2 separate regions of the Homo sapiens genome follow, and region 1 is linked to region 2. The links come from fine-mapping of genetic effects on gene expression. A gene starts in region 2. The other region holds a variant in brackets. All regions are shown on one strand. Distances are between the middles of the regions. Region 1 has its middle 170 kb from the start of LINC02269. Region 2 holds the start of HAND2 (heart and neural crest derivatives expressed 2).

Evidence for each region. PIP is the estimated chance that this variant, and not a neighbour inherited with it, causes the effect. A credible set is the group of variants that fine-mapping cannot tell apart.
Region 1: its variant is the best candidate, but not a certain one, in a credible set for the expression of HAND2 in skin (TwinsUK, PIP 0.64).

What each region holds. Positions count from the first base shown.
Region 1 is chr4:173,726,410-173,730,794 of GRCh38, forward strand. No RefSeq gene overlaps it. Among named protein-coding and RNA genes, the nearest start is that of LINC02269, 170 kb to the right of the region's middle. The variant TTG/T (reference allele first, on the strand shown) is at 2,138.
Region 2 is chr4:173,527,683-173,532,067 of GRCh38, forward strand. HAND2 (heart and neural crest derivatives expressed 2) reads right to left here and starts at 2,547. Exons shown (of 2, transcript NM_021973.3): 1 at 1,053-2,547. The coding sequence starts at 1,607. HAND2-AS1 (HAND2 antisense RNA 1) reads left to right here and starts at 2,689. Exons shown (of 5, transcript NR_136196.1): 1 at 2,689-2,857; 2 at 3,285-3,396.

The sequences.
Region 1 (4,385 bases), 200 kb after region 2:
TTATGTGTGTTGGGGTTGCTCTTCTTGAGGAGTATCTTAGTTGTGTTGTCTGTATTTCCTGAATTTGAATGTTGGCCTGTCTTGCTAGGTTGGGGAAGTTCTCCTGGATAATATCCTGAAATGTATTTTCCAACTTGGTTCCATTCTCCCCGTCACTTTCAGGTACACCAATCAAACATAGGTTTGGTCTTTTCACATAGTCCCATATTTCTTAGAGGCTTTGTTCGTTCCTTTTCATTCTTTTTTTTCCTAATCTTGTCTTCATGCTTTATTTCATTAAGTTGATCTTCAATCTCTGATATCTTTTCTTCTGCTTGATCGATTTGTCTGTTGACACTTGTTTATGCTTCATGAAGTTCTTGTACTGTGTTTTTCAGCTCCATCAGGTCATTTATGTTCTTCTCTAAACTATTTATTCTAGTTAGCAGTTTTTGTAACATTTTTTCAAGGTTCTTAGCTTCCTTGTATTGGGTTAGAACATGCTCCTTTAGCTCGGAGAAATTTGTTATTACCCACCTTCTCAAGCCTACTTCTTTCAATTCATCAACTCATTCTCTGTCCAGTTTTGTTCCCTTGCTGGTGAGGAGTTGTGACCCTCTGGAGGAGAAGAAGCATTCTGGTTTTTGGAATTTTCAGCCTTTTTGCACTTGTTTTTCCTCATCTTCATGGATTTGTCTACCTTTGGTCTTTCATGTTGGTGACTTTCGGGTGGGGTTTTTGAGTGGTCATCCTTTTTGTTGATGTTGATACTATTGCTTCCTGTTTTTTACTTTTCCTTCTAACAGTCAGTCCCCTCTTCTGCAGGTCTGCTGGCATTTGCTGGAGGTCCACTCCAGAACCTGTTTGCCTGGGTATCACCAGCGGAGGCTGCAGAACAGCAAAGATAGCTGCCTGCTTCTTCCTCTGGAAGCTTCATCCCAGAGGGGCACCTGCCAGATGCCAGCTGGAGCTCTCCTCTATGAGGTTTCTGTCAACCCCTGCTGGGAGGTCTGTCCCCAGCAGGAGGCACAGGGGTCAGGGACCTACTTGAGGAGGCAGTCTGTCCCTTAGCAGAGCTTGAGCACTGTGCTGGGAGATCTGCTGCTGTCTTCAGAGCTGGCAGGCAGGAAAATTTAAGTATGCTGAAGCTGTGCCCACAGCTGCCCCTTCGCCAAGGTGCTCTGTCCCAGGGAGATGGGAGTTTTATCTATTAGCCCGTGACTGGGGCTGCTGCCTTTCTTTCAGAGATGCCCTATCCTGAGAGGAGGAATCTGGAGAGGCAGTCTGGCTACAGTGGCTTTGAGGCGCAGAGATGGGCTCCACTCAGTCCGAACTTCCCGGTGGCTTTTTTTACACTGTGAGGGGAAAACCGCCTACTCAAGCCTCAGTAATGGTGGATGCCCATCACCCCACCAAGCTCGAACATACCAGGTTGACTTCAGACTGCTGTGCTGGCAGCGAGAATTTCAAGCCAGTGGATCTTACCTTGTTGGGCTCCCTGGAGGTGGGATACACTGAGCAAGACAACTCGGCTCTCTGGCTTCAGCCCCCTTTCCAGGGGAGTGAATGGTTCTGTCTTGCTGGCATTCCAGGTGCCACTGGGGTACAAAAAAACAAAACAAAACAAAACAAAAAAACAAAACTGCAGCTAGGTAGGTGTCTTCCCAAATGGCCACCCAGTTTTGTGCTTAAAACCCAGGGCCCTGGTGGTGTAGGCACCCAAGGGAATCTCCTGGTCTGTAGGTTGTGAAGACTGTGGGAAAAGCATAGTACCTGGCCCAGAATGCACTGTTCCTCACGGCACAGTCCCTCATGGCTTCCCTTGGCTATGGGAGGGAGTTTCCTGACCCCTGGCACTTCTCAGGTGAGGCAACACCCCACCCTCCTTTGTCTTGCCCTCTGTTGGTTGCACCCACTGTCTAACCAGTCCCAATGAGATGAGCTAGATACCTCAGTTGGAAATGCAGAAATCACCTGCCTTCTGCATTGGTCTCGCTGGGAGCTGCAGACTGGAGCTGTTCCTATTCAGCCATCTTGCCCGGGAATTTGTCAAACTGATTCTTAAGGAACTTAACTACCTCCAAAACAACACTCTTTAAAGGAAGACAACAAGATCCAAATACAATATATTAGTGTTCTTCAAAGAAGCAGAGCTGAT[TTG/T]TGTGTGTGTGTGTGTGTAATGTGTGTTTGTGTGTATGGAGAGAGAAACAGAGAGAGACTTATTATGCCTAGAAGTGTGAAATATGCAGAACCCTTGGTCCCGTTCGAGTCCAAAGGCCGCATACTGCTATAGAACCAGAAAGAGCTTATGTCCCAGTTCAAAGGCTGTCAGGCAGGAATATTTTCTCTTACTTGGGAGAGGGTTGGGCTTTTTTTCTGTTCAGACCTTTAAGTGATTGAATGAGACCTACTCACATTATGGAGGGCAATCTGCTTTACTCAGTTTACTGATTTAAATCTTAATCTCATCCAAAAACACTCTCATAGAAACACCCAGACTAATGTTTGGCCAAATATCTGGGCACCCAGTGGCCCAGTCAAGTAGACACAAAAAAATTAGCAACCACATTTAACAATGTAACATTTATAATTTTCACCTCTAATAAAATATTACTAGACATACAAAGAAAAAGAAAAATATGACCCATAACCAGTGAAATAAGTCAATAGAAGCAGAAGCAGAAATAAAAATAATATTAGAAATAGAAGACAAAAACCTTAATATAGCTATTATAAACGTGCTTGGGCTTTAAAGTAAAACATAAATTTAATAAAGAAATGGAAACTATAAAAAAGAACCAAATGGAACTTCTGGAGTTGAAAAATACAAGATCTGAAATTAAAAATGCGATAGATAGTCTTAACAGTAGATTAAAGATGCAGAAGATGTGATAAGTGGACTTGAAGTAAGAATAATAGAAACCATAAAAAAAAAATAGTACAAAGAAAGAGAGAAAAAAAGGCTGAGAAAAAAAGCCTAGAGCTTCTATGACCCGTGGATAATACAAAATGTTCTAATATAGTGAGACTGAAGCCCAAGTAAAAGAGGAACGGGACAAATATTTAAAGAATGATGCCTGAAACTCATCCAAATTTGATGAATACTATAAATCTACAAATTCAAGAAGAATAAACACAGAGTAAACCATACCAAGGTACAACATAATCAATTGCTGAAAACAAAATTAATGAGAAAATCTTAAGTGCAAGGAGACATGGGGGAAGACATATTAAATAAAAAGGAATATGGATAAGAGTTATCACTGACTCCTTAATAGAAACAATACAAGCCATCTTTGAAATGCCAAAGGGGGAAAAAAACCCCTGTTCACATAGCATCTATATTAAGTGACAATCTCTTTCACAAATGAAGCAAAATAAAGATATTTTCTGCCTAACAAAAGCAAAAAATATTGTTACAAGGAGACCTGCATATCAGAAAGTTTAAAAAATATTCTTCATTTTGAAGGAAAATGATATCAGATGGAAACGAATCTATTCAAAGAAATGAAAAGCACTGAAAGTGGTAGATCTGTAGGCAAATATGATATTTGTTCTCATTAAAATTTTTTACATGATAATTAAAAAATTAAGAACAATATATGGCATTATAACAAATGTATCAGTGAAATGAATGAAAATGATAGCACAGTGATGGAAGGGACGAATGGAATTTATAGTGTTTAAAGTTTTCATACTACACTTAATGATATATTATTTGAAGATTGGCTGTGATTAGTTGATGCATATTTTAAACACTAGCAAAGTCGCTTTAAAAAGGAGGTATGTTGTTTAGTAGAGGAGACAAAATAGAACATTAACAAATACTTAATCAAACGAAAAAGAAGAAAAAAGGATAAAGAATGGATTAGAAGGACGGGCATGGTGGCTCACGCCTGTAATCCCAGCACTTTGGGAGGCCAAGGTGGGCGGATCACAAGGTCAGGAGTTCGAAACCAGCCTGACCAACATAGTGAAACCCCATCTCTACTAAAAATACAAAAAAATTAGCCAGGTGTGGTGGCGCATGCCTGTAATCCCAGCTACTCAGGAGGCTGAGGCAGGATAATCACTTGAACCTGGGAGACAGAGGTTGCTGTGAGCCAAGATCATGCCATTGCACTCCAGCCTGGGCAATAAGAGTGAAACTCCATCCCCACCCCCCCTAAAAAAAGAATGGATTAGAAAACAACAAATAGCAAGGTGATAGATTCAAACCTAGCCATATTGATAATAAAATTAAATGTAAATTATCTAAATACTCCAATTAAAAGGCAGAGATTATCAAAATGGATTTAAGAAAAATAAGACCCAAATACATGTTACCTAGAAGAAAAGCACTATAAATATGAGAATAAATACTTTGGAAGTAAAAGACATACCCTGCAAACACTAAGCAAGGGACA
Region 2 (4,385 bases):
CTGGAGTCGGCGCTAAGTCTGGTTTCTCTGTTTTCATTAGCAATCCTAGATCCACATCTAGGAAAAATAGGGCGAAGGAGCCTCTGTTTCGGCCTGGGCCTCTCGGCCAGAGGCTCTCGGCCTCCAGCTCAGCAGTGCCTCTCCTCCAAGGCTTCTGAAATCTCTGGTTATTCGGGAGGTCACTCGATTATGCAGCCACCAAAGGGCTGCAGGGGCCAAAGAAGAAAAATTCGACAAATGCAATTATTTTCCGGGCCCTTCGTGGACATAGCTCTATCCTGCACCACTGCCCTGTGGGCACTTGGTAGGAATCTGAGAAAATTTTAAGCGGCTCAATTTACTTTCGTGTTATTTTTAATAACAATGACCATAGTAATGCCTTTTCCCCCTTAAAATGTACAGGCTTATTCAAATAAAATTAGAAATGCCAATGGAATATACTCATCTGGGAAATTACATTTTAACGTCATAGCCAAGGAAAAATTGGAGCTGTATTTTGAAGTCAAAAGTACTTATTTTATGTTTACCATTACGTTTTCCGGGCATAGTATGAGAACAACCACAAAACTCAGGGCTCAGTCTCTGGCAGCCTCCTTCTGGGAGTGGGGTAGGGGGTGCGATCAATAGTGAAATAATTGGAATCAAGGGCTTCTTCGAGACTTATTCTGGAAACATCTGAAAGCAAGATTGGATTGGAGGCCAAAAGAAGGGTCTAACAGAGACGGGGTGAGGCATCCAGACCAGTGCGATCGCGATCGATCGCGACCCAGAGTTTTCAAGGTCCGTCCTAAGTACTAGGGGAGCAGCGATAACCCGGAGGTAAGATCACCAGCGCAAAGCATCCCTAACCTTCTCCTCCTCCTGCTGACACCCTCCCCTCAACTCTCTGCTTATGCCGGAAGCCATCCTTACACAACCTGGTGCAAACAACCTTGAAGCGGGACGCAGCCAAAGAACACGAGATGCCATTTCTCAGCCCAATTGGAAAGAGGCCGGGAGCACCAGTTCCCTGACCCCCTCAGCCCCACCGCCTGCCGCCCCCTGGTACTGACCAGCTCCTTCTTCCTCTTCTCCTCTTTCACGTCGGTCTTCTTGATCTCTGCCTTGAAGGCCTCCGCCTCGCCATTCTGGTCGTCCTTGGCCAGCAGGTCCATGAGGTAGGCGATGTAGCTGGTGGCCAGGCGCAGGGTCTTGATTTTGGAGAGTTTGGTGTCGGCGGGTACGTTGGGGATGCACTCGCGCAGTTCGGCGAAGGCGCTGTTGATGCTCTGAGTCCTGCGCCGCTCCTTGCGGTTGGCGGTGCCTCGGCGCTTCACCGGGCGCGGCCCCCCCAGGCCCGGGGGCCCGGCGCCCGGCGGCACCCCCCCGTAATGGGAGTGGTCCAGGCCGGCGGCGCCGCTGGCATACTCGGGGCTGTAGGACAGGGCCATGCTGTAGTCGGGGGGCGACATCTCGGGGTGGCCGATGAGCCAGCCATGGAAGTAGGGGTTCTCCTCATGGCTGCAGCGGCTGGCGGCGGCGGCGGCAGCTGCGGCGGCGGCGGCGGCAAACGGGTAGCCCTCGTGGTGCACCACCGGGTGGTGGGGAAAACCACCTACCAGACTCATTTCGCCCTCCGCGCCCCTCCACGCGCCCCAGCGTGCGCGCAGCCCCGCCGCGCCCTCGGCCCGGGCCCCTGCCTCAGCGCTCGGCGTCCTCCCCCACCCCCCACCCCCCAGCCCCCGGGCGCCCGGGCCCGCCCGGCAGCCGCAGAGGGGGCTGCTGCAGCCCGGGCCCCGTCCCCCCGCCTGGCCAGCCGGGCCCGCCTCAGCAGCGCTGCGGCCGCCGGCTCCCCATGGGGCGCGGCGAGCTGGTCCTGGCACCGTGCGCCCCTGGCCGCCGCCGCCGCCGCCTCCGGTTCCCGCCTTGCTCCACGGCCCGCGCTTCGGCTCCTGCTTCCCGGGCTGCTGCGCGGAGGCAGAATCCTCTCGTGCTCATACAAAGGTGCCGGGGCTCCCGCGAGGCTGGTACGCGGAGTCTCGGGAATCCAAGCCCGGGCCGCGGTCCTGGCACCGAAGCTAACCCGGAATCCAGGGGCGAGTCTGAGCCGCGGCTGGAGGAGCCGGTCCAGCTGTGCCGGGGGGCGGCGGGGTCGACTGCTCACTGCAAAGCTACCTCCGTGCGACCCTCCCCTTCCCGCCTCTTCCCCTCCCCCCACCAGCCCGATCTGGGTTCTTGGGCGCTTATTGTTTTAATGAAATTTTTGGTTGTTGTTGTTTTGGTCCTTAAATGTGATTTTAGCTGCGAGTAACGTGTCCTCGCTCCTCTCGCGCTCTCTCGGAGGGTTTTCAGAGAGGTCTCAGTGCATCCATTTTCTCAGATCCTCTCCTTTCGGGGCAAGGATCTGGGGCCCTGAATGAGCCTTGGAGCTCGAAGACCGCGGCTCGGGCTCTCGGAGGGCTCTGCGCGGTGGCCGAGGAAGCTCCGGGGTGACGGCGGTGGTTCTCCTGGGCTGGACGACGTGAGGGGAGCAAGCGGATTTTCCCAGCAAGATCTCCATGTACAGCTACATCTTTAGGGCCGCTCGGGTTAATATATGTCGTCAGAGGCTCCTCACGCCAATCCCGGGGCGGCAGGGGCGGCGCCTCGAGCTCTCGGCAATAAAACTTTTTGATGTTCACGTTGCTAATTGCCGAGGTCCTCTTCCAGGATTGGCTACCTCCTCATAACCATAAGATAATTAAAACTTGGCGGGGGGGGGGGGCAGGGTTAAAAAAACTTTTTTTATCAGTCAGAGGATAATGCAAGTGTTTAACAGATGCTTCACTATTAAAATATTTTCCCCCCAAGTCTCAAATATTGAAGAATCTCTAACCAGGTACAGTATCACTCTGCTCTCTTTTCTGGTTGAAAAGAAAGAAAGAAAGAAAACGCAGGTATTGCTTTTCGAAGTGCTTTGTAGGTAATCGAGGTAAGAAAATATACGCAGGCAGCCTCTTACAATTTTATGCAGGGGCGCCGGGAGCCTCGTGACGGGCGGTGGGGGCCCCCACAAAGGCGCGGCTGGGAGCTGGCGCTCTTTGCCCCAGCAGGGACGAGGAGCGGCTGGAGAAGGGTGTTTCTTTGACCCGTTTACAGGCTCGAAACGCCGGTCTCAGTGGCTATTGAGTTACCCACCAAGTTACCCCGGTTAGAGCTGTTTGGGGTGGCTCACGTTATTGCGGCAAACTTTGGAGATGACGGCTGAGTCCTCCGGGCGAACATGTCAAGCCGATTGTAAATGCTGTTATTTCCACATCCTTCAGGGACACCAGTCCCTACGAAGACCTTGGGCGATTTTGAAGTGCGGGCACCTCGATTCCCCGAATCTGTAGTGTGGCTGGTATCGGTGTTCCCCTGGTTTAACTAGCCTGTTTGGTAAGTAACTGAATATTTTTTACGGCGTGTTCAGAGCTTATTTTCCAGTTTTTATGAACAAACATATAAATATATCTCTGCATTCCTGCCTCCCTCATAAAAGCGGGCATCTGTGGAAAGCAGGTTTAGTTATCGGAGGGGAACCATTAAACGCCAGTTTAAGAGGCAGGCCGGGAGGACGGCTCGTGGATGTTGAGACTGCTGGCCTTGGTGATCTTGAACGCATTATAACGGAAAATGGATCTCCACTTGTAAGTCACCGGGCCGCGGGGCACCCGGGCCGCAGCGCCCGTGTGGCATGAGCTTCTTGAGAAGGCTCACGTGCGGCGAGGGCGGGTGGTAAATGGCAGGAGCTGAAATCACCCCAGGCTTGGCCCCAAGCCGAGAGGGGAGGCTGATGTGTATATGCAGATTCCACCCGAAGGAGTTCGGTGTGGAAAACGGTGTCAACAGGAGCCCGCGGGCTGTAAATTAGAGGGAGGCGAGGGCCTGCGGCGCCAGCGCGGGACAGGGCGGCCTGGGGCTCGCCGCTGGTCAGGCCAGGTTAGCCCAAGGGAGACCAAAGACTCCACCTTGAGCATCGCCCTTTGGAGGCGGGCAGAGTCCGGCCGCAGGCCACAAAGCGATCCCCACCCGAAGGACTCCACAAGGACAGTCCTTTCCTTGCTCACCGCCGACAAAGTGGTTGGGGCAGGAAGGCGAGGTCAGTGCGAATGGAGGGCGCCCAACTTCGGTGTTGCAGTTGACTCTGTGCTCGGGCTCTGCCCTCCACTAGCCCTAGAGTCTTGGGCAGCAGGATTGAGAAATATATATATTTCAGGTTTGCCGCGGCTGGGCGGTAGGAGACAGGGACTTAAAAGCCCAGGATTAGAGTCGGTGCAGGGCCCATTCTTTTTCTAGGAAAGGGGTTAACATCCTTGAACGTCCCCAGACAAGCGTCTTAAAGCATTGAACCTAGAATAGGGATTAACTGAAACTAGGCTCGTTGG